Homo sapiens: one gene and its partners. The protein of the gene in region 7 interacts with the protein of the main gene of each other region in a biochemical or structural test. Each region holds a gene or a part of one and is shown on either strand. Other genes may lie near its edges.

Region 1 (5,176 bases), on a different chromosome or scaffold from region 7:
GAGTTCCAGTGAGAAAGCCCTCAGGACTGAGCTTCAGAGGGCTAAGTTCTTTCCAAATTTAACAGTCAGGCACTCAGAGAAAAGACTGCCAACCATTTGATGGAGGTGTTTCACATCTGAGTTTGATGAATGGTATTCCACCCTGGATAAACTGGAGAGATGCTCTATTTAATTGATTGCAAACCCTACTTTGATTTCTAAGCCTCTTCTATCAGAGCAGCCTTACATGGAGCTAAAGTTGTGATTTCAGAGGCATTAGCAAACTTTTGTCCTCCACCTCCCTTCAAAATATCTTTCCCATTAAAAAGATGGATTCTTTAATAAGTGATGTTGCATTAACTGGTTAGGTACTTGGAGAAATTGTTACATTACCTAAAAAATTGATACTTTAAAACATTAAATTATTTATTTAATGTTTGAAACAGTAAAATTATGAAACGGTAGAAAAGAACTAGAAAAAAGATCTGATGAAAAGATTTTCTAATTTTTAGTATGCAATTCCTTTCTCGCATAAAAGCTAAGGAAGAAATTATAAAAGAAAAGACTGCTAGATTTAGATACATAAATTTAAAAAACCCTCCGCACTGATCAAGATATTATAAATTAGGCCAAAAACAAAGTTGAAAAACATTTTGGTATTTATGTCAGAAAAATATTTTATATTGTAAACATAGACAGTGCTTTTCTACATAAATAGGGAATACTCAAACTTACCACAGCCCTTTGCCCATTCACAGACTATGATCACAATAATAATAATAATATTCATCATCACCAAACAATGCTAACGATACTAGCTAATACTTATTGAGCATTTCCTTGGACTTTATGTTTGTTTACTCACTTAACTTTTCCAACAAAATTTTGAGGGACAGCAGTGGGCTGAATGTTTATGTTCCCCCAAAATACATATGTTGAAGTTCTAGTCCTTAAGGTGATGGCTTATTAGGCATGGACTTTGAGAGGTGATTTGGTCATGAGGGCTCTGAGATCAGTGCCCTTATAAAAGAGACCTCAGAAAAATCCCTCATCCCTTCTGCCATGTGAGGTTGCAATGAGAAGACAGCAGTGGTCAATGAGGAAGCGGGCTTTTATCAGACACTGAATCTGCCAGCACTTTGATCTTGGACTTCCCAGCCTCCAGACTGTGAGAAATAAATCTCTGATGTTTATAAGCCACCCAGTTTATGGTATTTTGTTATAGCATCCAGAGCTGATTAAAGGAGGTTCTCGCATTTCTCCCATCTTACAATTGAGGAGATTAAGACAAAGAGAGGCCAGTATGTAATTTGCTCAGGGTTATGCAGCTAGCACATGGCAGAGCCAGAATTCAAAGGCTTTCTTCCTTCAAGAGGCAAGAACAAGAGATTTTAAAAGGTTGTAATACAATTGGCCAATGAATGTCTAAAATAGTCAAACTTAAAAATAAACTAAAAAAAAAGAATATTAGTTGTCTTTTTTTAATGCCAGGATTCAAAGCACAATACCACACAAAGAACTTTTGACCCACAAGAAATATATACATTATTTCTACTTAACACACACCGAGTATTATTATAATGGTTAGGAGAAAATGAATCAGAGCATTTTAGAGAGCTTTAGGACTGTCCAGCGAACAGCCCAGACGCAGGGCCTACCTGGCCTCGGGAGCCTTTAGCCATCTTATCGCTGTCCTCGGGGCCGATGGTCAGCGCACGCAGGACAGGAAGAAACTTCTGGATCACTCCTGGAAGACCCAGGGCGCCCCTAGAGACAGGGCCCTGGAACCCGGGACAGAGTGGAGGGAAGCAGAAACATTGCGAATCGGGGGTGGCGGCAGCAGCGACATGAGATCCTTTGCCCTCCGCCCCCTGGGCTGCGGGACCCAGTGACTTCGAGGAGGAGCGCGAGCGCAGCCGCGCGGGGCGCACCCGGATCCGCCTGGGGCGGGAGCCGCCCCCTTCCCGCCGCAGGCGGCGCGGGGCTGCGAGTCAAGTCCAGGACTCGGGCCAGTCTCTCCGGAAGACAAGACCAACCTCGCGCCGCGGCGCAGCAGCACGCGGGTTCTGAGAAGCGCGTGGCTCCGGCGACAAGACCCCAAGCACCCTCGGCCGGTGGCCCGGGCCCGACCACCCCAGCTGCGCGTCGTTACTGGCCACAAGTTTGCTCTGGGCCAGCCAAGTTGGCAACTTGGAAGCTTCTCCCGGGCTCTGGAGGAGGGTCCCTGCTTCTTCCTACAGCCGTTCCGGGCATGGCCGGGCTGGGGGCGTCGCTCCACGTCTGGGGTTGGCTAATGCTCGGCAGCTGCCTCCTGGCCAGAGCCCAGGTAAGAGCCAGTGCTCCGCGACACCTGTTTTCGCGGAGCCTCCGGCGGGGACTCAGCTTTAGCGACACGGAGGCCAGGTGCGCGCGAGAGCTCATTCATGTTCACACGTCCACAAACGCCCCGGCACGCACCGAGGCGTACCCGGCAGGTGCTGGCAGGCAATTAGTGGAGGGAGCTTCAAAGATCTGCTTTAGTGGAGTGATGTCCTGGGGCCGGCACTGTTTAGACCAGCATCCTGGCATCCGCAAAGTAAGGGGATATTTCCGAACAGCGGAGTCGTGGATCAAGAGTGTGAGGCTGGGAAGGTGAAGGAACTTTTCTTACTCTTAAACTCCGTGGTCCCCATTTAATTAATCGAAATGACTTTTGTCTGCTGGTAATTTACCATCGCTTTTGAGAATTTAAATTTACAGGATCGATTGTGACCACTATCTGAAAGAATAATTGGCTGTCTGTGATACAGAATCACATACATTCAAGTTAGGAGACAGAATAAAAATACCAAAATACAGCTCATTTGTTAATGTTAAGCGGTGGCTGTCACTTTTGTACTGCTAATATCATTTAGAGATTTTCTGGGCGATCTTTCACAATGAAGCCTCTTTAATGTGCAAGGCACAATTCATACGCACTTTTTTTTTTGAGTCAAATCAAATGTAGGGTTTACAGTCAGCTTTTCAGATGAGCTAGAGAGATGCGTGTAGTGGTGGATGTTATGCAGTTCAAGAGCCCTGTGAATTTAAACCGAATCAAGGTATTTCTCTCCGGTTCGGTAGGGGGTGCACCTAGACCGTCAAATGAAGGCCCAATAAAAAATTATTTCACCGTGAGAATTCAAAGCAGTGATTTATGTGTTGATACTGTCTAAACTTAATACTATGTTCTCGGCTTTCAGATGACTAGTTTAAATTTCAATTATTCTAAAAGTGCAGTTTAAAAAACCTATCTGTTAAAGTCATAACCAGAGACATTAAAACTTAAAGGGGATTTCTAGGCTAGGTGCCACGCTAAAAGTGGGCTTTACTTAACATGACCAAGATGTTTCATGTAGATTTATTTTGTTAATAAATAAATTTTGTTAATAAACTAAACAATTTGTGTGTCATACATTGACTAATAATATTAGCAATGGATAGCTGAAAGTAAGATACACTTAAACCTGAAAAAATTCATCAAGTTACCAGAAGGAATATGAATGCATGGAAAAAAATTTGGTGATAAATTTCCATGATCGTTATAGAACTCTGGTAATCTCTACTATACTTCCTACATTTTTATCTCATAAGATATTTGGATAATATGCTTAAAAATGGCATCTTATATACAAGAGGCAACTGAACTCTAACCGTTTATTTTATTTAGTGTTCTAGATTACTTTTTGTAAGGAAATGGGGAGGTATTATTTAGTACAATAAGAAAAAAAAAAGGCTTGGTGTGGTGGCTCACGCCTGTAATCCCAGAACTTTGGGAGACGGGAGGATCTCTTGAGCCCAGGAGTTCGGGGCTGCTCTGAGCTATGATCATGCCACTGCACTCCAGCCTGGCAACAAAGTGAGACCCTGTCTTGAAGGAAGGAAAGAAAGAAAAGAAAGAGAAGAAAGGAAAGAGAGAGAGAGAGAGAAAGAGAGAGAGAGAGAGAGAGAGAGAAATAAATAATAAATAAATCACCATGGGATTGTGGGCAGAATATTTTCTTTTGCTTTCAATAAAACAATCAGGACATTGAATACTTCTATAACTTTAAACCAGGATTTCCCAACCTTGGCATTGTTGACATTTTGGGACATATATAATAATTCTTTGTTTTGTTGGGGGTGGGTGTGTTGTCCTGTATATTGCAGAGTATTTAGCGCCACCCTGTCTCCTCTATCCACTAGATGCCAGTAGCCCCCCTCCCCCTAACTGAGACAACCAAAAATGTCTCTAGATGTTGCTGTACATAGTTTGGAAGGCAAAATCACTCCTGGTTGAAAATCATTGCTTTACACGGATTTCCATTTATATCTATAGATTATGAATTGCATAAAATGACAGTTTGTGGTATTATATTACATTTGCCGAATTTTTGACATTTTAAAGTCTGGAGGTTAAATTCAAGTGATTTACATTGACAAACTGATACATTTTATGACCTTCAGTTTCTTCATCTTCAAAAGAGTCATATTGGGCTAAGATTCTTTTAATTCTATAAGTCTTGGTTTATTACTTTTAGGTTACAGTCATTCTCTACTCTGAAATTCCATTAGTTAACCTGGAGTATAATAGAGACTAAATACATTCTGGGTATTATTTACTTCAAATATCAATTGCTGATATTATTAGCTTAAGTATGAGAGACAAGGTATTTATGAAAAATGAGGCTGGCTTTATTAATTTTTTTAGCATACCCAGTTAATGATGAATATATTGCTAGCTAACACAGATATTTCAAAAAAATTATAACATATTGATAGAAAACCAAAGGGAACTCACCCAGGCAGAATGAGCTTGTGTAGAGTAAATATTTAGTATTCAGTAAACACTGGATCACACCATAAAATAGATGATATAGACCAGTGCTCATCAATTGTTTTAAGGGTCTCTGTGGTTTCTGGTTGGTAAAGATATACTTTTGTCTCAAAGCACAGTTCAAAACCCGTGCATTCATACATCATTACAGAGCCCAGCAATGCATTTTCTATAGTCAGATTATCACATGGTAATGAGGACCACTATATAAACATGTTCAGTATTTTCTTTACTGTGTTAGTGGATCCTCCTGGTAACAGACTGTAGGATGGAATTGGGGTGCTAGAGGTTTATTAGGGGAGGAGGTAATGCTTGTGAAAGTTGAAAGGGAGAGGGAGAAGGATTGGACAGGGGTAACCTCAG
Region 2 (4,038 bases), on a different chromosome or scaffold from region 7:
TGTTGGCCAGGCTGTGCTCAAACCCCTGACCTCAGGTGATCCACCCACCTCGGCCTCCCAAGATGCTGGGATTACAGGTGTGAGCCACCGCGCCCACCCTGGGGCTGTTACTGTTAATGGAGGATGCAGGAAGTGCCCTATCAGATGGCAGTGGACTCCTCTCACAGCCTGGGTTGCCAGCCTGGGGTCCAGGATAAAATGTTGAACCCCCACTGGTTGGCAGGTTGGCTGCATACCTCCCACTTCTCCCCATTCTAGAAATCAGGTGACTGAGGCTTGGGAGGTGGAAGTAGCTGGGATTGGCAGCCCTGGGTCTTGGGCCCCGCCCCCAGCCCCAGCAGCTGCTGACACCCTTTGCAGATGTCCAGGATGACCCGTGGAGGGGAGGTTGCATTTCCTCATCTCGGTCTGCCCACCTGAGCATGCACACATGGCAAGTTTGTAGGGTGGAAAGGCACCAGCCCGTGGGTTAAGGGGCCTAGAAGGGAGAGTTGTGGCCCAGTCTGGGCCAGCAACCAGCTGTGTTACCTGGGGAAATCCCTCTGCCTCTCTGTGCCTCGGTTTCATCATCTCTGTCCAGTGAGTACAGTGGAACACATGATGACATCTCCCTGATAGCTTGGAAAGTGGTGACTGTGCTTTGGTAGGCACCGATTCTGTGCCAGGCCCTACACCCATGGCTGAACCCGATGAAGTGGGCACTGCGAGTACCCCCGGTTCACAGGGAGGACGTCACACCGTGGCGAAATGGCCAGCCAAGAGTGGAACTTGGGTCTGGGGGGCCCAGAGTCCACAGGCCTGACCACAGCACTCTCCCATCTGCAGCTGCCAGTCCCTCTCCTGGGTACAGAGGCTGAGAAGCAACTGCCCTGCACACAGGCCTGACTCCCCTCACCTTCCCAGCCTGATGGCCAGGCCCCCTGACAGCTGTTGGCAGGTCCCCAGCGGCCCCCAGCCCACTGGGCTCCGTTCCCAGAGCCTGCGGCCTGCTCCTTAGACCTTCCAGGTCCCAGGGGCTTGCGGTCTGGCCCCTGCCCCTGCTGCTGAGGCCAAGGAGGCGGCCCACAGGGGCTGGGGCTAGGAGAGGCCCCAGCCCCCGCCCCCTGCGGAGAGGGTGGGGAGGGTGGAGCTGTGGGAGTTTCACTGGTTTAAAAATACACAGAGGAAGCGAGTAAGAGAAAGGGGAAGGGGAGGTGGGAGAGGCACCTCAACTTTGATGTCCCGAGCCTTGAGTGGCCACTCGCAAGCTGGCCAAGGGCTTCACACAATTTGCCAAGATGACAGAGGGGACCAAGAAGACCAGCAAAAAGTTCAGTGAGTGTGGGGTGCCGTCTGCACTGTCCTCCATCCCTGGCTCTCCTCTGGGCCTCTCTCTGCATCTGTTTCTTCATCACTGTCTCATTTCTGTTTTTCTCTCTCTCACTCTTTTTCTTTTTTTGTTTTTTGCTTTTGGACACCAGCGTCTCTGTCACCCAGGCTGGAGTGCAGTGGCACAATCTCGGCTCACTGCAGCCTTGACTTCCCAGGCTCAAGTGATCCTCCCACCTCAGCCTCCTAAGAAGCTAGGCAAGTAGCTAGGACTCCAGGCACAATTAAATCTTTTTTTTTTTTTTTGGCCAGGTGCAGTGGTGGCTCACGCCTGTAATCCCAGCACTTTGGGAGGCCGAGGCTGGTGGATCACCTGAGGTCAGGAGTTCGAGACCAGCCTGGCCAACATGGTGAAACCCCTCTCTACTAAAAATACAAAAAATTAGCTGGGTATGGTGACACGCACCTGTAATCCCAGCTACTCAGGAGGCTGAGGCAGAAGAAACGCTTGAACCCAGGAGGTGGAGATAGCAGTGAGCAGAGATTGCACCACTGCACTCCAGTCTGGGCGACACAGCGAGACTGCATCTCAAAAAATAAGTAAATAAATAAAGTAAAATAAAACTGATTTTTTTTTTTTTTTAGAGACCGGGGTGGGTTCTCACTTTGTTGCCCAGGCTGGTCTCGATCTCCTGGGCTCAAGCGATCCTCCTGTTTCCCGCCTTGTTTCTGTTTCTCTTTGTCCATCACTGTCTCTCTGCAGACGTCTCTGCTTCTGGGCATCCCGTGGCTTTCTGGCTGTCACTCTGGCCCAGCATCTCTGTCTCTCTGACTGACTTCGTTCTCCATCTCTGTGCTTCTCTTTATCCGTCTCTTTGTCTCCCCACCGCGTCTCTCGATCTCTGCAGTCCACTGTGTCTCTGGCTGTCTCTGACCTTGCGGCCGGGCAGGGGAGGCATTCGCACACTCCATCCCCTGCCCGCAGGCCTGGGCTCACATGGGATCTCAGGTGGGGAGTTACTGGGGCAGCAGAGGGATGGGGGCGTCATGGGATCCCAGGTGGGGAGTTACTGGGGCAGCAGGGGGATGGGGGCATCATGGGATCCCAGGTGGGGAGTTACTGGGGCGGCAGGGGGATGGGGGCATCATGGGATCCCAGGTGGGGAGTTACTGGGGCGGCAGGGGGATGGGGGTGTCATGGGATGCTGTCTCACATTCCCAACAGCAGTGAGGCTGGGACCCAATACTTGGGTGGGGAAAGAGCACAGAGGTACTAGAATCAGGCTCCACGGTGAGGGGCCACACTTGCCCACTGCTCTGTTTTCCTGTGTCTGTCCTTCCCAGTCCCAGCAAACTTTTTCTGTCTCCTGATTCCTTTGATCTGACCCCACCAGGGTGGGGGACATGTGGCGTAAAGGGCAGTGATTGTGACTGCATTTCCCAGATGGCAATGCTGAGGCGATTATGACTGCATTTCCCAGATGGCAACGCTGAGGCCCAGAGACTTGCTTGAGGTCACACGGGCTATTGAGCAGGGCCCAATCCCAGACCCTGGACTCTGGGCCTCAGTTTCCCTCCCAGCCCCCACTATCTCCTCCAAACGTCTGGTGCCCAGGAGGCAAAACCAGTGGTGCTGAGAAAGAAGGCAGTTGGGGGTCCTCCCTCTGGCCACTGATTCAATTTCCACCCCCACCGCATGCAGCAGAGCGGCCACATTTGCCGACACGTTTCTCAGGAGACCAAGGCAATAACCAAATAGGGCCGGCAGGGCTGGGAAGCAAACCCCTGAGCACTGACCCAGCTGTGCTGAGCCCTGGGCCTGTGTCCAGGCTCAGCCATGGCCTTGCTGTGTGACCCTGGGGGAGTCCCTCCCCATTGCTGGGCCTCAGTTTCCTCCCTTGTCAACTGGGGGCATCCTACCTGCATCCCAGCACGGGTGCGAACAGCTGAGGAGGTGGAGGATGCTGAGGATGTGGAAAATGCCGGAGTTTTACCTTTTTGCTCATCTGGAGGCTGTGGGGAAGTCAGTTGGTGGTGGCTGTGAGAAGGGACAGTCCCACAGCTGGGGGCAGGGGGAGGGAACTCACATACACCCCCGCAGAAACCAGGAGATGGTATCACCCCAGCCGTTCCTCTTGAGTCTGGAGCTGGGCTCAGCTGACAGGAAGGAGAGAACCACAGACAGTGCGACCCTCAGGCTCACAACAACCCCCTCCTCATTCCACCCCCACCCCAGGTGCACAGAGGCTGGCTGGAACACTCCCCAACCCCCTACATGAGCACAAAACACGCACACCTGCTCCACCTACCAGCGGTGTGAGCTCGGTTCATTACACTGCTCTGAATCTCAATTTTCGCATCTGGAAAATGGGGATTAAACTGTGTCACTGAGTTATGCTGAGAATTCATGCAGCACATTTGGCAGATGCAGAATCATTTTCAGAAATTTTTAAATTATTATTATTAGTGGCCAGGCACGGTGTCTTACCCCTGTAATCCCAACACTTTGGGAGGCCGAGGTGGGTGGATCCCTTGAGGTCAGGAGTTTGAGACTAGCCTGGCCAACATGGTGAAACCCTGTCTGTACTAAAAATACAAAAACCAGTTGGGCGTGGTGGCACGTGCCTGTAATCCCAGTTACTCGGGAGGCTGAGGCAGGAGAATCGCTTGAACCCAGAAGGTGGAGGTTGCAGTGAGCCAGGATTGCACCACTGCACTCCAGCCTGGGTG
Region 3 (4,477 bases), on a different chromosome or scaffold from region 7:
GGAGAGAATCAAGTCTAATCAGCGCAAAAGCCAAACCCATCCCCGGCTTTACAGGTGCGTTTGCTAAGTGCCAACTGAGTCCTCTGGTCCCTGCCTGGGAGGAGCTTAGGATCAAGCACCAGGGGAACCAGCTCTGTGTGTGGGGTTGGTACATCAAGGAGCATTTGGTTTTTCTTGTTTTTGTTTTGAGACAGGGTCTCACTCTGCCCCTCATGCAGTGGCACAATCCTAGCTTACTGCAGCCTTGGATGCCTGGGCTCAAGCAATCTTCCCACCTCAGGCTCTTGAGTAGCTGAGACTGCAGGTGTGCACCATCACACCTGGGTAACTTTTTAATTTATTTGTAGAGACAGGGCCTCACTATGTTGCTCAGGGTGGTCTCGAACTCCTGGCCTCTAATGAGTCTTCCACCTCAGTTTCCCAAAGTGCTGGGATTACAGGCTTGAGCCACTGCACCCAGCTCATTTGTATTTTTATGAAGCATTTTTGGATGCTGTGGAAATTGAAGGAAAATGTACACAACTCAGCCTTGTGATTAAGAAGTATGACGGGAGCTTTGTGTGTTCCAGCCAGGAGGTACACCTGGGATAATCTAGTCCCAATTAAACCTAGTGGGGGATCAAAATCATCTGGGGAACTTGTTAAAGGTACGGGTTCCTTGGTCACCTTCCCACCCCACTCTGTGGTCATTCTAAGTGGGTCTTCAGTAAGGCCAGGTATTTTTTGACAAACATCCCTGGGGATATTAATCATCATGAAGGTCTGAGAAACACAACAGTAATCCTAAACATTCATTTAAGAATAATAATCACAATAGTAATGAGAAGGAGGAAGAGGAGGAGGAGGAGGAGCAGGTACCTATATGGCACACACTCTTCTAAGTGCTTCACATCTATTTCGTTAATTTTCACAACAGTCCTATGATTTGGAAGCTACTAATATCTATATTTCACAAAGGACAAAAACTGAGGCACAAAGAGGTTGTGTAGGTTGCCCAAGGTTATGAGTTAGTAATGGAATTCAGACCCAGCAGTCCGCCTCTAGAGTCCATGGCCTTGACCACTGCACTATACTGCCTTGGTAGTTGAAGAAGCCAAGGCTCGGAAAGGGCCAAGGACTTGCCCAGGGTCACACAGGACACACCTGGCAGAGCAGACTGGAACTCAGGTCTCCTGACTCCCAGCCTGGGCCACCTCATGTCTCAGAGGCCAGTCCCAGGATGGCGGCTTAGAAGTGACAGCCTATCATCCTGACCCTAATGTCACCATGCTCTTCTCTTCCAGGTGGTATCAGCCTGACCATAAAGGACCCCCGATGGGTGGGTGCCTGGTGGCTGGGTTTCCTCATCGCTGCCGGTGCAGTGGCCCTGGCTGCCATCCCCTACTTCTTCTTCCCCAAGGAAATGCCCAAGGAAAAACGTGAGCTTCAGTTTCGGCGAAAGGTCTTAGCAGTCACAGACTCACCTGCCAGGAAGGTAAGCTCCCTCCATGTCACCTGACTGGGTCCAGGCTCCAGCACCACCCACTTGTTCTCCTTTGTAACATTACACTTCGGCTGGGCGTGGTGGCTCACATCTGTAGTTCCAGCACTTTGGGAGGCCAAGGCGGTTGGATCACGAGGTCAGGAGATCGAGACCATCCTGGCTAACACGGTGAAACCCCGTCTCTACTAAAAATAGAAAAAATTAGCCGGGCATGGTGGTGGGCACCTGTAGTCCCAGCTACTCAGGAGGCTGAGGCAGAAGAATCGCTTGAACCTGGGAGGTGGAGGTTGCAGTGAGCCGAGATTGCACCACTGCACTCCAGCCTGGGCAACAAAGCAAGACTCCGTCTCAAAAAAAAAAAAAATTACACTGCATCCCCACTGGGCACTATACTTTCTGCCTGGGCTCCATCACATCTTTCTGACAGCCTTGCACAGTGAATATCACCTGCTGTCTCCACAGCTGAGGAGACCCAGAGCCAGTGTTGGAAAGTGACTTACCCAAGATCACAAAGCCAGCAAGCAAGGCAGCACTGGGATGAGAACCCGCACCTTTCTGAGCCCATGCCCCCATACTAACCACTACAATATGGCCTCTGTGCTCATCACTTAAAGTTTTTGTAAATTCTGAATGTGCCATAGGAATGTTAAGAATTGGGAGGGTGGGTAGGATCATCTGGGAAGACTTCCCTGAAGAGGAGGGATTTCAGCTGGACTTTGAAGGATTTGTGGAAGCACAGAAAGGAGAGAGCAACAGAGATTCTAGGCACAGAAGCACCCTGCATGAAGGATTTGGCTGTAGAAATAAACCTGGCCCTTTCGGGGACAGTGAAGGGAAGAAACATGCATGGAGTGCAGGCCCCAGGCTGGATCTGAAGATCAGTCCGTGGCCTCCACCCTTCCAGCGGGCACAGTCTAGGGAGGACACAGACTCACGGAGAAGTCACGACCGGTGTGATGCTCCAGGGGTATCTAGAATCCTCCTCCTCTGCTCTTGGGGCAGGTGGGTCTCTCCTCAGAAGCGGACACAGAGGCCCAGCCCAGTGGAGGGATTTGCCCAGGGTCACAAAACTGGTAGGAGAGGACAGGATCATGTGAGCCACCAGGCAGGATAGCCATTCTGGGCCAGGGACTTCCAAGTTTTTCAGATACCCACAAAAACACGAGGCCTGAAAAACAACAAATTGGCTTCAAATTAAAAAGAAAATGACAAAATAGAAACAATTTTTAAAGTTTATTTATTTATTTTTATTTTTTGAGACAGAGTCTTACCCTATTGCCCAGGCTAGATCTCGGCTCACCACAACCTCCAACTCCCAGGTTCAAGCGATTCTTCCGCCTCAGCCTCCCAAATAGCTGGGATTACAGGTGTGTGCCACCATGCCTGGCTAATTTTGTATTTTTAGTAGAGATGGCGTTTCACCATGTTGGCCAGGCTGGTCTCGAACCCCTAACCTCAGGTGATCTGCCCGCCTCAGCCTCCCAAAGTGCTGGGATTACAGGAGTGAGCCACCGTGCCAGGCCTAAAAGTTTAATTACAAGCCAGTAATGTCAAGTTCATTAATTTTTTTAATACTTATACACATTTCATTACATTCTGAAAATTTGTGCATTAGATTTCCTCCTTCTCAAGTATGGGAGGTGGCTGTTGAGAAATCATAGACAATCATAAATTAAGTAACTTACTTGTTGCTAAGTAATTCTAATTTCAAAGGGACAATTTATAAAAATCCTGTTGAATGTTTTTGCTGCAAGAGCATTTCTGTGGCAGGTTGATGCATTTGAATATGTTTGGAGAGGGTGGGGGCGGGGAGAGAAATGAGACAGCTCTGATGGTGGTCCAGGCCAGGTGGAAGCCGTGCATTGGCAGTGAGGGGATAGAGGTGCATCTGGGAGCTACCCAGGTTGGGGACTGCACATAGCTGCCCTGCTATGGGATGTCCCCAAGACAGTGATGAGTTGGGCTGATGCTGGGATTGGGTGCAGCTGTCTCAGAGGCAGGGGGAAGCAGCTGCCAGGGAGTGAGCAGTTTCAGGGGAAGAAGACAGTTTGGAACTACAGATGGGCCTTTCTGATTCTGCCTAGTTCAGGCCAAAGTTTCGAGAAGATGAAATTCCTAGAACTTAAAGGTGGAGTGATGTTTATAAAGGAAAGAGAGAGAGCCTATATTGCTGGTTACAGATGATCTCCAAATTGAGTCCTAAATTTGAACAGAGAAGAATGCCAGTTGAGCCACGGGTGGGATAGGTGACAGAAGCAAAGTTTAGGGGTGGGAGACCACGCTGGGCTCTGTCACATGCCAGTCATGTGACCTTGAGCAGCAAGCCACTTCCCCATTCTGTGCTGCTGTGTAAGATGCTGAGGTTAGGTTCCTGGAGCAATATCCTGTGCGCCTCAGATTCTGAGAATGCACGAGTCCTTGAGTCGGAGCTGCTATGATTCAGATACTCAGATTTTAAGAGCTGTGTCTCTATGATGCTTTGAAACCCTGGCTCCCCAGCTGTGAACCTGTCTGGCTGTCTGGATTCATTCTGTCAGCACACTGGGGATGGGGAGTGGGGAGGGAAGGGGGTGAGAGGTTCTTTAAAAAGAAACAAGGGCTGAGAACATGATGATCTGCTTCCAGCAGCTCTCAGGCAATAAATATTGATGTGGGAGGAATTGTTCCTCCACCTCCCTGAGGCTGCCTTGGCCGGGTCTGCTTGCAGTAACGTGGTTGGCCTGGCCCAGGAGGGCCACCAATGAGGAGTTGAATAAACCAGGAGCAAAGGCCCAATGAGGCTGAATTGGCTGCCAGAAAGTCCAGGCCCCCAGACATGGGATGTGTATCTTCTGCAGGGCGAGAGAATGGGCAAGAGGAGAAAGTGAAGGGCAGAGCTAACTCTGAAATCTCACCAGGCGTCCCCTCCCAGGCTCAGGGCTCAGGGGTCCCCTAAATACCCTCTTAGAAGTAAATGCTGTTTTTAAAGGTATCCGGGAGATTGGCAGTTTGTAA
Region 4 (3,534 bases), on a different chromosome or scaffold from region 7:
CACCACGTACCGGGTCATCTTCACGGGGATGCCCACGGACCCCCTGGGTGAGCCTGCAGACTCTCTGGCCCTGTCGCCCCCTCTCCCCCAGGTCTTTGGGATGGATGGGCTTTCCCTGCCTCCCTCTCCCTTTTCTCGGGGGTTCTGGGTGCCCGTGGGAAACGGGCCTTTGTCTGCTCCTTCCCCACCCACTTGGGATTCCCCATAACTGTGGTACCCTGAGATTCTGGGACCCCCCCCCCCTTACCTTCCTTGCTTCTGACTCTGCCTGGCCTGTCCTAAGTTGGGGAGCAGGTGGTGGTCCGCTCCTTCCCGGTGGCTGCGCTGACCAAGGAGAAGCGCATCAGCGTCCAGACCCCTGTGGACCAGCTCCTGCAGGACGGGCTCCAGCTGCGCTCCTGCACATTCCAGGTGGGGCGCGGTGCGCGGGTGGGGCTCTCATCCCCCGCCCTGGTCTTTCTCCTGCAAACCGGTCTTTCTTGTATGAACCATTTTTAGGCCAGTCTCCAGCAGTGGCCCTGTTGTTACGCTTGCATGTCTGGGGCCCTCACTGTGGCTCTTGAGTTGATGTCCACTGTTTGATGTGCGGTCTTTGGGTCCTTGTCCTTTCCTTGGGGCGCCGGCCCTCAAGTCCGTGTCTTGGGTGTGCCTTGCAAACCCAGGCCTCAGCTCACAGCCACTGAGATTTCGAGTTTACACAAGCGCTTGCCTTCGTGTGACACAGATACAGGCCTTTGCCTGGGGCCTGCTTCTCTCTCTGTCATGGCTGCGAGGGGAAGGGGAGCCTGGCAGTGTCAGAGTTGGGGGAGGGGCTGGGGGGCCACCCACACCCCTAAGGGCTGCTTTTACTGACACAGCTGCTGAAAATGGCCTTTGACGAGGAGGTGGGGTCTGACAGCGCCGAGCTCTTCCGTAAGCAGCTGCATAAGCTGCGGTACCCGCCGGACATCAGGGCCACCTTTGCGTTCACCTTGGGCTCTGCCCACACACCTGGCCGGCCACCGCGAGTCACCAAGGACAAGGGTCCTTCCCTCAGGTATGGATCTGGGTCCCAGGCAGGGCAGCTGGGCCTCAGCCGTGTTCCCGCTCCAACCCTCCTAGGCCCCTGTGCTCATCTTTGTCCCTCCTCCTCTCACCTTTGCTGACTCTCGTGGGCCTCAGAACCCTGTCCCGGAACCTGGTCAAGAACGCCAAGAAGACCATCGGGCGGCAGCATGTCACTCGCAAGAAGTACAACCCCCCCAGCTGGGAGCACCGGGGCCAGCCGCCCCCTGAGGACCAGGAGGACGAGATCTCAGGTGGAGGGGTGGGGGTGGAGTCCTGGGTGGTCTCTGGATGCTGACATTGGCCAGGGAGGATCAGGGCAGGCGGAGTGGCCCCGTGATGACCACGTGTGCCCGGCCTGTGCAGTGTCGGAGGAGCTGGAGCCCAGCACGCTGACCCCGTCCTCAGCCCTGAAGCCCTCCGACCGCATGACCATGAGCAGCCTGGTGGAAAGGGCTTGCTGTCGCGACTACCAGCGCCTCGGTCTGGGCACCCTGAGCAGCAGCCTGAGCCGGGCCAAGTCTGAGCCCTTCCGCATTTCTCCGGTCAACCGCATGTATGCCATCTGCCGCAGGTGAGGGCCGGCCAGGGCTGGCCCGGGTGGTGGACACGTGACTGGGTGTCTTCCCTGCCCGCTGTGGGCCTGGGCCACGGCTTCTGGTCATGTAAGGAATGTGGAGGGGGAGACTCCGGGCAGAGGGACGGGCCACAGGGCTGGGGGGTGGCTGGGGGGCCCCGTGGCTGAGCTGGAAGCGCCTCCTGCTGGGAGCCATGGGCTGGCTCCTCTTGCCCTGCTTGGGGCGTGAGCCTGGAGGCGGGTGGGGTCGCCAGCCACCTTCACGCCTCTGCCTCCTCTCAGCTACCCAGGGCTGCTGATCGTGCCCCAGAGTGTCCAGGACAACGCCCTGCAGCGCGTGTCCCGCTGCTACCGCCAGAACCGCTTCCCCGTGGTCTGCTGGCGCAGCGGGCGGTCCAAGGCGGTGCTGCTGCGCTCTGGAGGCCTGCATGGCAAAGGTGTCGTCGGCCTCTTCAAGGCCCAGAACGCACCTTCTCCAGGTACCTCCTGCGTCCTGCCCTGTGCCTGCCCTGCCCTATCTCACCCTCCCCTCCCTCAGCTCCGTGTCCTCCCCCAGGCCAGTCCCAGGCGGACTCGAGTAGCCTGGAGCAGGAGAAGTACCTGCAGGCTGTGGTCAGCTCCATGCCCCGCTACGCCGACGCGTCGGGACGCAACACGCTTAGCGGCTTCTCCTCAGCCCACATGGGCAGTCACGGTGAGGGTGCTTGTGGGCAGACGGTGGGGCAGGGGCACTTTGGGGGGCCGTGGTGGCATTTATGGTTTGGCAGGCAGGCCAGGGAGGAGCAGAAACGGCGCTGGTCATGGATGTTTGGGTGTGGGATGAGGAGCATGCCCTCCGGGTGCCGTGGGGCAGGGGCGGGAAGCCTGTCCAGACCAAGTGTGTGCCCAGACCAGGTGTGTGCCCTGACCTCCTGCCCGCCCTGACGTCCTGCCCGCTCTCCACCTCTGCGTCTGCTGCAGCTTCCTGTAGGGTCCTCCGGGTGCTGCCTCTACGCGGCTCTGTCTTACCATTTCCCACAGCCTGGAAACATCCCAGATGCTCCTCTGTCCTGTTCCCTCCCAGTGTCACTGTTTTTCCTCATCCCCCACACTCCACCCTCCCTGCATCCCCCAATCCAGACTGTCTTTGGAGCCTCTGGCCTGGCTCTGCCTGCAGCTTGGCCTCTGTCCTCGTGTGTCCTGGTTCCTTGGGCCTTGCCCGAGCTGGCCTTGCTGTCTCTGTCCCCACCGCCACGCACACTTCACAGGCGCCCTGCACACACTGAGCTAGACTGGCCCCAGGACGGGGTGGCAGATAGGCCCCACACTCACTCCTGTGTCCGGACCACCTGTTCTCTAGTTCAGAAGTGGTTTTGTTTTTCCAGATACCACATTATATACTTACATTTTACAATCGCCCTGTCTTGCTGCCTTCCCACCCCTGCCAGAAACCCTGAGTGGCATTTGCAGGTGGGGCCGCCCCTGCACCCCCCATGCCTGTGCTTCCCACAGAGTCCCTTTTGCGTCTCCGACCATCCCCAGTGCCAGTGGCTGCTGCCTCCCCGTGTCCCCCTCAGTGCCCAGCAATGCTCAGGGGCTCAAGCTTCACTCAGCTGTAGTCGTGGCTTCTAGTCCCAGCCCTGACCTTTTTTTTTTTTTTTTTTTGAGTCGGAGTCTTTCTCTGTCACCCACGCTGGAGTGCGGTGGTGCGATCTCGGCTCACTGCAAGCTCCACCTCCCAGGTTCACGCCATTCTCCTGCCTCAGCCTCCCGAGTAGCTGGGACTACAGGTGCCCGCCACCGCGCCCGGCTGATTTTTTTGTATTGTATTTTTAGTAGAGACAGGGTTTTACCGTGTTAGCCAGGATGATCTCGATCTCCTGACCTGGTGATCCGCCCGCCTCGGCCTCCCAAAGTGCTGGGATTACAGGCGT
Region 5 (5,138 bases), on a different chromosome or scaffold from region 7:
GACTTCCCCTTACTGCAGACCTCCACAAAGGGAACCCACACCTTGACTTTGGAGAGCAACCCACTTCCTTTCTTGGTGTTTGGTCCCTTATGTCCATAAGCTTTCATAAAATCTTTCTCTTTGCTACTGTATGCTGTGATCTCTTTTGATTTCTATCCTGGGGGATCAAAAAAGCCCACAGGGCGTTGGTGCCAGAAATCAGCTGTGCAAGCACAGAAAGGGAGCAGAGGCTGTTGCCTGGCTCAACTGGTGAGGAGCAAGACTGGAGAATGAGCATGCAGTGAGTTCTAATACTAGCACATTTCTTACCCACTCAACACCTGATCCCTTCCCGACACATCCAGGAGCCTTGGTTCTCTCCTTCCTCCAACTCTCTGAGAGTGAATGCTGCTGAGAACCACTGTGGTTTTAAAATACTCCGTGCAATACAAAGAACTCTCAGATGCATCCTGTGGTTTGAGAGCACCTTTATGTGTCATTCTCATCATTAACCTCAATGAATGCATACTAATGATCTAATATGCACCAGAAGCTACACAAAAACACTTTGTAGTTGTTAGCCAATTCATTTTGGCTACAGCCAGCCAGAAAAGAGGAAACTGAGGCACAGAGAAGCAAATGTCAACCCTACCTGGAAGTGTCAGTCTGAAAAGATCAGTTGAGTCTTCCTCTACCAGACCCCAACTTGTCTGGTCTCGTGAAGAAAGACAGAAATGGATGGAAAACCATTCTTATCACCTTCTTGCTGGAGAGTTAGGGAAGAGTCAGCTGGTCCCTAACAACAAACTTTGCCCTACTCCAGTACTGCCAAAGGGGTCTTTGTTGTAACATGGCCTACAAGGAGAGGACATCTTTCTGGGAAAGCACCTAGAATGTGGCTGGCACATATTCAATGCCCAGTAAATGTAGCTATTATTTTTTCAATCAACACTCTTACATACCCCTTTTCCACTCACCCTCTTCTCCCTTTTTTTGGTCACCCAATAAGCAGAAATTCCAGATGCATCCTTCGGGGTGGTTGGGAGCAAAGGATCCCCAGGGTGCACTGTGCCCTGGGCTGAGGTATCTCTGAGGTGCTTCCATCTTCTGGGTCCTTCCTCACTGGGGTTGTTGCCTCAGGCTCTCAGGACTCCCCTGGAAATCTTCTGATGGGAAAGGCATTGATTGACTTGCCACCCTTTCTCTACCATCCCTTTGCAATTCTGGGAGAGTTGCAGCCCCGCCCTCCCAGGCTTGCAAAGGTAGACGGAGAATTATATTGGAATTTAAATCGGAAGCTCTCAAGGCATCTCAAAAATACTTTCTCTATTTTTTTTTTCCTGTAGATATTGGAGAGGTTGGCAAACGGGTCTTCCTGAAGACAGAAGAATGTATGATTTAATGTTTTCTTTAGATTTCTGTATGAGTGGATGCACAGTGCTCCGTATTGTGTGGTGGGGCGGGGTGTGTCTTCTTATTGATGAAATACACTGCGCAGGTCAACTCGGTAAATTGAAATGAGAAGAGCCGACTGCGGGGGTGGAGGGGGTGTGGTATTAGGGTGCCGGCGCTTGTGGAGGGGGGCGCGAATGTGAACGTGTGAAAGCGAGAGGCGTGCCAGGAGAGCGCGGGAAAGCTTACTGGTGAGGCAAGTGTGCGTCTATTTCCATGGCGCCCTGGCTCGCGGCAGCCCCTGGCTGGGCGAGGGGTGTGATGTGGGAGTGGGGTGGGAGGGGGCAGCAGGCGGGGCCTGCCACGTCACTTGGAGAGTGTGTGTTGGGAAGGAAGGGCAGAGCGGAGAGCCGAGCCGCTGCAGCTGCGGCGGCGGCAGCGAAGCCTTGAGCCGTGGGGAGGTGGGTCCCCGCGCTCGGGCGCCGGGGCAGCCCCGGGCCCTCTGCGAGGCCTGCGGCGCGGCTCCTAGGGAGGAGGTGGCGGCTGTGGCGGCCGGAACCGCGACCTTGGCCGGACCCAGCCCCGCGGTGGACGCAGGGCGGAGGCCGAGCCCCGCCAGGAGTCTTTGCCGAGCCGGAGGGAGGCGCATCTGGCGCTTCGGTACCAGCGGCAGCCGGGGGTCCGGAGCGGCTGGAGGAGCGCAGTGGGAACTGGGAAGAGCTAGCCCGGCTGGAGGGCGGACCTCTGCGTCCGGGAGCCGGGTCTCAGGCACCGCTGGGGGCGAAGCCACGCGTCTTTTCGGGCAGCCAATTTCACACGCGCCTGTGTGCGGTTCCGGGCATCCCAGTAAGCTCTAGCACCCGGGCGCGGGTAACGGGAAGCGCAGAACCAAATCCCCAGCGCCCAGGTCACCTCCCCAGACCCAGCCTTGCAGGGACCAGGGCTTTAGGGCTCACGGACCCAACGGCCAGGTCAGACCGCGAACCGGGAGGAGCGCGGGCCCCACCCTAAAGAGGGCGCAGCCGGGAGCTGGGGAGCGGGTGCCGCGCTCCAGAGATTGTGTCGTGGGCGCCGTCCTAGTGGCGGGGAGCGCACCTCCGAGGGGGCATGAGATCGGAGAAATCCCTTACGCTGGCGGCGCCGGGGGAGGTCCGTGGGCCGGAGGGAGAGCAACAGGATGCGGGAGACTTCCCGGAGGCCGGCGGGGGCGGGGGCTGCTGTAGTAGCGAGCGGCTGGTGATCAATATCTCCGGGCTGCGCTTTGAGACACAATTGCGCACCCTGTCGCTGTTTCCGGACACGCTGCTCGGAGACCCTGGCCGGCGAGTCCGCTTCTTCGACCCCCTGAGGAACGAGTACTTCTTCGACCGCAACCGGCCCAGCTTCGACGCCATCCTCTACTACTACCAGTCTGGGGGCCGCCTGCGGAGGCCGGTCAACGTGCCCCTGGACATTTTCCTGGAGGAGATCCGCTTCTACCAGCTGGGGGACGAGGCCCTGGCGGCCTTCCGGGAGGACGAGGGCTGCCTGCCCGAAGGTGGCGAGGACGAGAAGCCGCTGCCCTCCCAGCCCTTCCAGCGCCAGGTGTGGCTGCTCTTTGAGTACCCAGAGAGCTCTGGGCCGGCCAGGGGCATCGCCATCGTCTCCGTGTTGGTCATTCTCATCTCCATAGTCATCTTTTGCCTGGAGACCTTACCCCAGTTCCGTGTAGATGGTCGAGGTGGAAACAATGGTGGTGTGAGTCGAGTCTCCCCAGTTTCCAGGGGGAGTCAGGAGGAAGAGGAGGATGAAGACGATTCCTACACATTTCATCATGGCATCACCCCTGGGGAAATGGGGACCGGGGGCTCCTCCTCACTCAGTACTCTTGGGGGCTCCTTCTTTACAGACCCCTTCTTTCTGGTGGAGACGCTGTGCATTGTCTGGTTCACTTTTGAGCTCCTGGTGCGCTTCTCCGCCTGCCCTAGCAAGCCGGCCTTCTTCCGGAACATCATGAACATCATTGACTTGGTGGCTATCTTCCCCTACTTCATCACCCTGGGCACTGAGCTGGTGCAGCAGCAGGAGCAGCAACCAGCCAGTGGAGGAGGCGGCCAGAATGGGCAGCAGGCCATGTCCCTGGCCATCCTCCGAGTCATCCGCCTGGTCCGGGTGTTCCGCATCTTCAAGCTCTCCCGCCACTCCAAGGGGCTGCAGATCCTGGGCAAGACCTTGCAGGCCTCCATGAGGGAGCTGGGGCTGCTCATCTTCTTCCTCTTCATCGGGGTCATCCTCTTCTCCAGTGCCGTCTACTTCGCAGAGGCTGACGATGACGATTCGCTTTTTCCCAGCATCCCGGATGCCTTCTGGTGGGCAGTGGTTACAATGACCACGGTAGGTTACGGGGACATGTACCCCATGACTGTGGGGGGAAAGATCGTGGGCTCGCTGTGTGCCATCGCTGGGGTCCTCACCATTGCCCTGCCTGTGCCCGTCATCGTCTCCAACTTCAACTACTTCTACCACCGGGAGACGGAGCAGGAGGAGCAAGGCCAGTATACCCACGTCACTTGTGGGCAGCCTGCGCCGGACCTGAGGGCAACTGACAACGGACTTGGCAAGCCTGACTTCCCCGAGGCTAACCGGGAACGGAGACCCAGCTACCTTCCTACACCACATCGGGCCTATGCAGAGAAAAGAATGCTCACGGAGGTCTGACCCATGCAGGCAGGGCCTGCAGGAGGGGAGCACTGAGCTAACAGTCTCTTAGGCTTCCTTCTCATTTCCACTACTCACTCTAGCTTCAGTTGACTTCTTGACTCTCTCCCCTACACCCACTACCTGGCATCCAGGACCAAATACCTGGACTATCAACCTTGTTGCTTAATCCCTGCAGCATTCAAGGTTAATCCATCTAAGTGACATTTTTGAAATTCCAGCGGTGCCACCCAATCATGCCCAGCTTCTGTCATATGAATGAGATATACATTTATGTCTGACCTTCCCTCAAGACTGATTTTTCATGTCTGGGACTTACAATATCTCAAGGAACAGCAATGTCAACAGGATGGAAACCAGCCCTATCTGAGTCTTCGCTCCCTCCTTAGTGTTCTTTGCTTTGGGTCATGTGCGTTTCCTAGCTTCAGGCTACTTGGTAACTGGAAGAAGCTGGAGGACAGAAGCAGTACTCAACTTGCTGTTATTCCAGTGCCCTGTAACAATCACTGGTCCTCCTGCAGATGACCCTTGGTAGAGTCTTTATTTGCATAGCCTCAAAATAGGTTATTCGTTTCTAAACTTGGATGGAATTAGAGAATACAATCAAACTTTACCACTTGGAGGACACGGGGTTAGTCCAGGACCAAAGAGGCCAATGGATTTTTCAAAGTGTGCCCCAGCACAAGAGGCACTGGTGTTCGGTCTACATTTAGTTCTCCCCACTCTGATCCCCTGACTCTCCAGCTTCCAGGAAGGTTCCTTCTCAGAGCCAAATACTCTTTGTGCAAGTGCCTTCCTGAGCAGAAGAACTGGAGAAAGGGAACCACAGAGCCAGGAGGAATGTCTGAGCAGAGTCAAGCAACTGGCTTGACCACAGTCTGAAGCAAGGTGCCACTTAAACAGATACTGTTTTCTCAAAGGGGCAGAGGAATCGTGTTGCAGATGGCAGCCTTTTCTCCTTCATTTTCCCCACATTTTCTCTGGCCCTCTACCTTGCTTCCTGGGAGTTTGATTTAGGATTGCTGTTGAAGGCTTCCTCAGGCAAACTCCAGCTTAAAGCCCTAGACAGG
Region 6 (3,358 bases), on a different chromosome or scaffold from region 7:
AATTGTGAGTGCTGGAGGAGCCGTCTTGAGGGTGTCTGCCACATGAATAGAGAAAGCAGTGTGCAAGGAAGACAAGCAGCTTTCTGGAAAATGCTTCTTAGAAGATAGACTGGTATTCCTCACTCTTGTGAATCGACAGTCAGGCTTTTTATTCAGTGTTGCCAACAGTACCAAAGCCTACCTTAACAGACACGCAGGTGTGCATGGAAGGCCACGCCAGTGGTGTAGGTGTTTTAGGCTTCTGGTCCTAATATGATAGAACTAGAAGAGAAGATGGTTAGAAGAGAAGCACAGGCCTGCATGAGGAGGAATGTTACATGAGAACTACAACTCATCTTCAGAGAGCGTTGGCCTAAGAACAGTCAGTGCGGGACCATAGAAAAATTCAGTCATTCACCAATATTCCAACACGCCATTTTGAAACTGGAAGTAATTCCTTCATTCTTAGATCCTCAGAACCTCACGATTTTACAGTACGAAGGGATTGAAGGAATCTTGTCCAACTAACTCGTGCCCCAGGAGAAGGGAGATGAACTTTGTCTCCCACTGCCCACTAGGTGGTATTCCCACTCTAGTCCTCAGGCACAAAGCTGAAGGTTGCAGATCTTGGTCCTGCCCCTCACTGTGCCCCCAAACTTTCTGGTATTGTCCTGGGGTCAGCCCTCTCCCAAGGGTCCCGGGTATGATGACCTCGGAGTTGCATCCTGGCCCAGGCTCTGCTGCCTGTTCTGGCTCTGAGTCTCTTCTGTAAAGAGGATGAGATTGTGCCTCCAGAGGAATCGGGGCTCCCTTCTGGCATTTCATTCAAAATGTGTTCAAAGAAACAATCTCATTTCATCTTAATGGGAGGAGGTGTTTTTTGTTTTTTATACTAAATTGAGGTATCAAAATAGAACCGCACAATTAAAGGAAATTGTTAATGTAGGTATTGCCTTGGGGTTTCTCAAATCTTGCACAGGAAAATATTTTTATTAGAACAAATCCCTTCACAGATTACTAAAATTATCTCTAACAAAACATGGTGATGGGTTGCATTTACAGATTTAAGAATTTCAGGAAATTATAAGGAGAAATACCAGCAGATGTGGTTGTAATATGACTTTATTTATTTTGTAAATTAGTTATTTGGCATGTTAGTTGAATAGGTTACTCTCTTAGCATTCCTAATTATAACCAAAGATGCTGTTAAGGTCATTAGCCCCTTGCTTTGGAGTGCTGATGCATTTGTAAATGTTCTCTGCCTGCAGTAACAGGCTATGGGAGGAATTGTTTCCAGGGGCTGCAGGGTAAGAGTTACATTATATGGCATATGAAATAAAAAGACTCCTTACAGAATTACAGTAGGAATATTGATAAACGTTCAACTATTGACAAGTGGGTTTTATTGTTGTTGTTGGCTTGGTAGTCAAGTTGTCCCATGAAAGCTTACCTATTACCCAAGTTTTCTATAGTATTAAAGTAACATATTTTTAGGTATGATTGGACACTTTTAAGACTTTGTTCCTAGTACTGTAGAGGATTTGGGAATATACATACCATGAAGAAACTTTTGATTTCTGCTCATTAAGTATGAAAAATTATGGATAACTTAGGGACAATCAAATTATCTACTCATATGGTAAATTTGGAAGTATTTCTATGGATCTTCTAATGTTAAAAAAAAATAAGCTTGTGTTTAATGGGTGGAACTCCATACACATTTGTGGTTTTCAGGAGAAAGTTTTTAAATATATTGGTTGGCCAAAGTAAGATAACTGAAACGTGTTGAGGTTTTTTTTTTTTTTTTAAACTTTGTAGCTTTGCTGCCAATCCCATTTCTTGCCCTTTTCAGTTTATGAAGTTAAAAAAGTGACTGTTGCAAGTATTCCTGAGAAATTGGTAGTACAGAGGGAGAAGTTTTGCTTCATTGCAAAAGAGATAATTCACGACGTTGCAACCGGGGGGCATGGAAGGGATTCGTAGGAACTCAGTGGCATGTAATGAGCTGGGGAACAGGGCTTGGCTAAGCCCTCATTCCTACGTTCATCAAGTATTTGCTGGGTTTTGAGCTGAGAAATGCCAACCGGGCGTGTTCAGAAGGCGGATCTCACCAATCCGGAGGCAGCTGGAAGAGTTCGCGCGTGGGAAACCTCAGCCCTTTCTTTCTTCCCGGCACAGCGTTGTGCTGCCGCGCGTCGGCGCAGGCGGGGGCGCAAGGCCCGGGTCGTCCCCCTCGCGCGGTCGGGAAAACAGCTACTGAGCTGCGGCCCACGACCCTCGGCCGCGCAGGGGCGGGGCGGGGGCGCTGCGGGGTTTCTCTGTTGCTAGAGCCGTGATGTCACCCGCCCCTCCTAACCCGCGGTTGGTTGTTTTGTGTTTCAGCTCTGCCTGCAGTTGAACACAAAGACCTGGAGGAGACTCCCACCTCCTTCAGGGAGAAGAAAGGAGGCAGCGAAGCAGATTAAAGGAACTTGTGGCTTGTGGCCTTTTTGTGCAAGGGCCGCCTGGAAGGGGAGAAAAGTGTATGAAAGCCACCGTGGCGGTTAATGAGCTGTGAGATGAGGCGCTGCTGCGGCCGCTGCTGCTGACACTCGCTCCCAGGCTGCACCCGCCGCCCTTGGCGCTTCATGTACATGTGTCTATTCAGGCCTTGCGGAGGCGCCCAGAAGAGCATCCAACACGGCTGCCGGGGAAAGACCGCCCACCATGCCCACGGAGACCCTACAGACAGGTAGCATGGTGAAGCCGGTCAGCCCCGCGGGCACCTTCACCTCTGCTGTGCCCCTGCGCATCCTGAACAAGGGGCCAGACTACTTCCGCAGGCAGGCCGAGCCCAACCCCAAGAGGCTCAGCGCCGTGGAGAGGCTGGAGGCCGACAAGGCCAAGTACGTCAAGAGCCAGGAGGTGATCAACGCCAAGCAGGAGCCCGTGAAGCCCGCCGTGCTGGCCAAGCCCCCGGTGTGCCCGGCTGCCAAGCGCGCACTGGGCAGCCCCACGCTCAAAGTGTTCGGCAACCACGCCAAGACCGAGAGCGGCGTGCAGAGGGAGAACCTGAAGCTGGAGATCCTGAAGAACATCATCAATAGCTCCGAGGGCTCTAGCTCGGGCTCGGGGCACAAGCACAGCTCCCGCAACTGGCCGCCCCACCGGTCGGAAGCCACTGACCTGCACCGTCACTCCTTCGCGGAGTCCCTGAAGGTCTACCCCACGCAGGGCCGCAGGAGCCCGCAGGAGGGCGGCTCCCACGTGGGCAGGAGACTGCTGGAGCAGTCAGCCGAGTCCTTCCTCCACGTGTCCCACAGCTCTTCGGACATCCGCAAGGTGACCAGCGTGAAGCCCCTCAAGGCCATCCCCTGCAGTAGCTCTGCCCCTCCCCTGC
Region 7 (2,551 bases):
CTGGGGCTACAAATTGGTGGGGATGGATTCTACTGTGTCAGCACAAATGCTCTTCACAGTGGTTCTAGCATTTAAAAAACTTCCCGGGGAGAAGAACAGAGGGGATGATGGGCAGTTTCCTAGGTAACACCTAGAGTTATAGAATATCTCATTACATAAAATGTATGGAATTAATAATACCAAAATTAATTATTTGATGGAAAGATCTGCTTTGACTAAATGTCAAAAATCTGCAAACCAAAGACATTATCTTCCCCTCATCCCAACTCAACTACGAAACTTAAAATTCCCTTTAGAGTGATAGGACATTTAGTAAAGTATTTGCAAACTTAAAAAAAGGAACATTTAATGATCATCAAAATTAAGTACAGATTCAGTAATGTAGACCAGACCACACACCAGCACCTGTGAGTCTCATCTCAGATCACAGCTCTCAGCATAGGGCTTCATGCATCACCGCCTCTACAGAGGCTAAGGCTGCCAGTCAAATTTGGAATTATAGCGTAGTACTGGGACAAAATCTCAAATCTTGGATGTTCCAGAAAATCAGGGAGAGATGGCTACTGTAATCATGGGAGCCATGAGTAAATAGTTAAGTATTTATTAAATAAATACTTAATCTGGATTGGCTGATAAAAATATGAAATCTGAAAAAAAAAAGAAAGAAATGGAAGTGGTATATTTGACCAGTTCAAGTGAAACCAATGGAATGCAAAGAACTTTCCAGGACTGTCACATCTCTAAAAGTACCCTGCAGTCATAAAATAAAATCGATATGTATATATGTATTTCCTGGGTCATTCAGTGCTCAAGTTACATGCACTCCTACTTAGACAGGTGGCTCCTTAAGAACATGATGGGAGTACACCAGGTGCAAATATTTCTACTTTTGTAGCCTGCTGAGAAGGAGTCATAACACAGTCCACAATTGCAATCTCTCTCTAGTCAGCCATTCCACAGGGACTCAACAACAAAAGCCGCACGTGGTTATGGATGGCAGCAAAGGAAAGGAGTTTAGGTGTGTGTTATTATAAATAATGTTTAACTAAATAATAAAACATTATTTCATTACAATTATAATTATAAATATTGGTGTTTTGATATTGAGAGATATTAGTGGTGTTTACTGTGGAAAATCTTAGTAAATATCATTCTGTGTACTAAAATCCTAACCTATTAATAGGATGTGTGCCCTATGTCAGACAGTGTGCTAAGCATATTAACTATATTATCTCATTTAATCATCACAACAATCTGCTGGTTTGGACACTATTCTCTCTGGAGGCAATATGGATGAGTTCTTACGGATATGGGGTTTGGGGTCAGAAACATCTTGATTAAAATTTTGACTCTGCCATTTTCTAGCCCTTTTATGTTGGGAAAGCTACTTTTTCTAGTCTCAATTTCCTCATAATAAAATGAAAATCAATTATAAGATCGATTTCCATAGGGTTGTCATGAGTTTTGAGTAAAAATGTGTATGTAAAGTTCTTACCACAATACCTGGCAGAGAGTAAGTATTCAATTAATGTTAGCTATTATTATCATCATAATCGTTGTGTTAAATATATTGCCCAAGATAATATGTGGGGGAATGTTTGTTTTATATGCATATTGTATCCTGACTGTGTGCAGAACACATTATGTGTATTGCATATATGTAAAAGAAGTGTACAAGGAAGTGGCCATCCTTGTTCAAGTTACGTATCTAGTTAGAACAACTTCCCAGTCCATTGGAGTTCTTTGAGAAGCCTCAGGGAAGTAGCTCTGGGTCCTTCTAATCAACCTCCCATTACTGCGCCAGTAAGTTTCTGTTTCTTATAAATAAACTCTTTGCTATTCAGAAAACCTCAAGGGGCCCCCACATTCACTAAGCATGGGGCTCCTAACTGGGGTCCAGGTCCATAGAGTGTAGGAAGAACATATTAGAACAATACTTGTGCTTATTTTTATCTAGCTTTTTTATGTTTGTGTATGTTTTATAATGGCATAATAGTACAATGGTACATGTACATAATTTTAAATAAATAAATGAATGAATGAATAAATAAGCATATGCCTGGTGCATGCATGTGACAATATTGTCGCAGGTAGGGTTGCATTCACTGAAATCTGGAGAGCACTGAACTGGAGAATAAACCTTCCTTATACTCACGGTTCTTTATGTTTAGTCCCCAGTCTACTTTGCCAAGTTTATCTCCTACCATTTTTATTAATCTTTTATCACAAATCTTTCAAACAAAAGTAGACACAATCGTATGAATTCATGTGGACTCATTACCTACCGATTCATGTCTAATCTTATTTTCTGTATTTCTACCCACCTCCTCTCCCACTGTATGATTTACAAGCAAGTCCCAGACATCATAGTGCTTAGCCCATGAATATTTCAGTAAGAATATCCTGTGAGAACTTTTAAACATAACCACAATGACGTTTTTGCATTTTAAAAATTGGGAATTCCTTAATATTATCAAATAAACATTACAGAAATAAATGATGGAGAAAGTAATAATCCCCTTAAACCCAACTTCCAAAGATAACCATTGTC

What was found.
Region 1: the proteins of FRMPD4 (region 7) and PTH2R interact in a test that uses a peptide from one of them, tested with the Homo sapiens proteins (one large-scale study listed by IntAct).
Region 2: the proteins of FRMPD4 (region 7) and SH2D3C interact in a test that uses a peptide from one of them, tested with the Homo sapiens proteins (one large-scale study listed by IntAct).
Region 3: the proteins of FRMPD4 (region 7) and SLCO2B1 interact in a test that uses a peptide from one of them, tested with the Homo sapiens proteins (one large-scale study listed by IntAct).
Region 4: the proteins of FRMPD4 (region 7) and SBF1 interact in a test that uses a peptide from one of them, tested with the Homo sapiens proteins (one large-scale study listed by IntAct).
Region 5: the proteins of FRMPD4 (region 7) and KCNA6 interact in a test that uses a peptide from one of them, tested with the Homo sapiens proteins (one large-scale study listed by IntAct).
Region 6: the proteins of FRMPD4 (region 7) and FAM110B interact in a test that uses a peptide from one of them, tested with the Homo sapiens proteins (one large-scale study listed by IntAct).

The regions. Positions count from the first base shown.
Region 1 is NC_000002.12:208,404,814-208,409,989, forward strand, and holds the start of PTH2R (parathyroid hormone 2 receptor isoform 1 precursor), read left to right. Parts: upstream 1-1,978; 5' UTR 1,979-2,230; coding exon 2,231-2,305; intron 2,306-5,176. UniProt on the Homo sapiens protein: This is a specific receptor for parathyroid hormone. The activity of this receptor is mediated by G proteins which activate adenylyl cyclase. PTH2R may be responsible for PTH effects in a number of physiological systems.
Region 2 is NC_000009.12:127,775,867-127,779,904, reverse strand, and holds the start of SH2D3C (SH2 domain-containing protein 3C), read left to right. Parts: upstream 1-1,238; 5' UTR 1,239-1,277; coding exon 1,278-1,314; intron 1,315-1,973; exon of another isoform or gene 1,974-3,364; intron 3,365-4,038. UniProt on the Homo sapiens protein: Acts as an adapter protein that mediates cell signaling pathways involved in cellular functions such as cell adhesion and migration, tissue organization, and the regulation of the immune response.
Region 3 is NC_000011.10:75,171,096-75,175,572, forward strand, and holds part of SLCO2B1 (solute carrier organic anion transporter family member 2B1), read left to right. Parts: intron 1-1,283; coding exon 1,284-1,474; intron 1,475-4,477. UniProt on the Homo sapiens protein: Mediates the Na(+)-independent transport of steroid sulfate conjugates and other specific organic anions.
Region 4 is NC_000022.11:50,458,036-50,461,569, reverse strand, and holds part of SBF1 (myotubularin-related protein 5), read left to right. Parts: coding exon 1-47; intron 48-283; coding exon 284-411; intron 412-857; coding exon 858-1,036; intron 1,037-1,161; coding exon 1,162-1,298; intron 1,299-1,410; coding exon 1,411-1,618; intron 1,619-1,903; coding exon 1,904-2,100; intron 2,101-2,177; coding exon 2,178-2,315; intron 2,316-3,534. UniProt on the Homo sapiens protein: Acts as an adapter for the phosphatase MTMR2 to regulate MTMR2 catalytic activity and subcellular location. Promotes the exchange of GDP to GTP, converting inactive GDP-bound Rab proteins into their active GTP-bound form.
Region 5 is NC_000012.12:4,807,564-4,812,701, forward strand, and holds the start of KCNA6 (potassium voltage-gated channel subfamily A member 6), read left to right. Parts: upstream 1-1,770; 5' UTR 1,771-2,478; coding exon 2,479-4,068; 3' UTR 4,069-5,138. UniProt on the Homo sapiens protein: Voltage-gated potassium channel that mediates transmembrane potassium transport in excitable membranes. Forms tetrameric potassium-selective channels through which potassium ions pass in accordance with their electrochemical gradient.
Region 6 is NC_000008.11:58,143,546-58,146,903, forward strand, and holds part of FAM110B (protein FAM110B), read left to right. Parts: intron 1-2,361; 5' UTR 2,362-2,685; coding exon 2,686-3,358. UniProt on the Homo sapiens protein: May be involved in tumor progression.
Region 7 is NC_000023.11:12,722,473-12,725,023, forward strand, and holds the end of FRMPD4 (FERM and PDZ domain-containing protein 4), read left to right. Parts: 3' UTR 1-2,051; downstream 2,052-2,551. UniProt on the Homo sapiens protein: Positive regulator of dendritic spine morphogenesis and density. Required for the maintenance of excitatory synaptic transmission. Binds phosphatidylinositol 4,5-bisphosphate.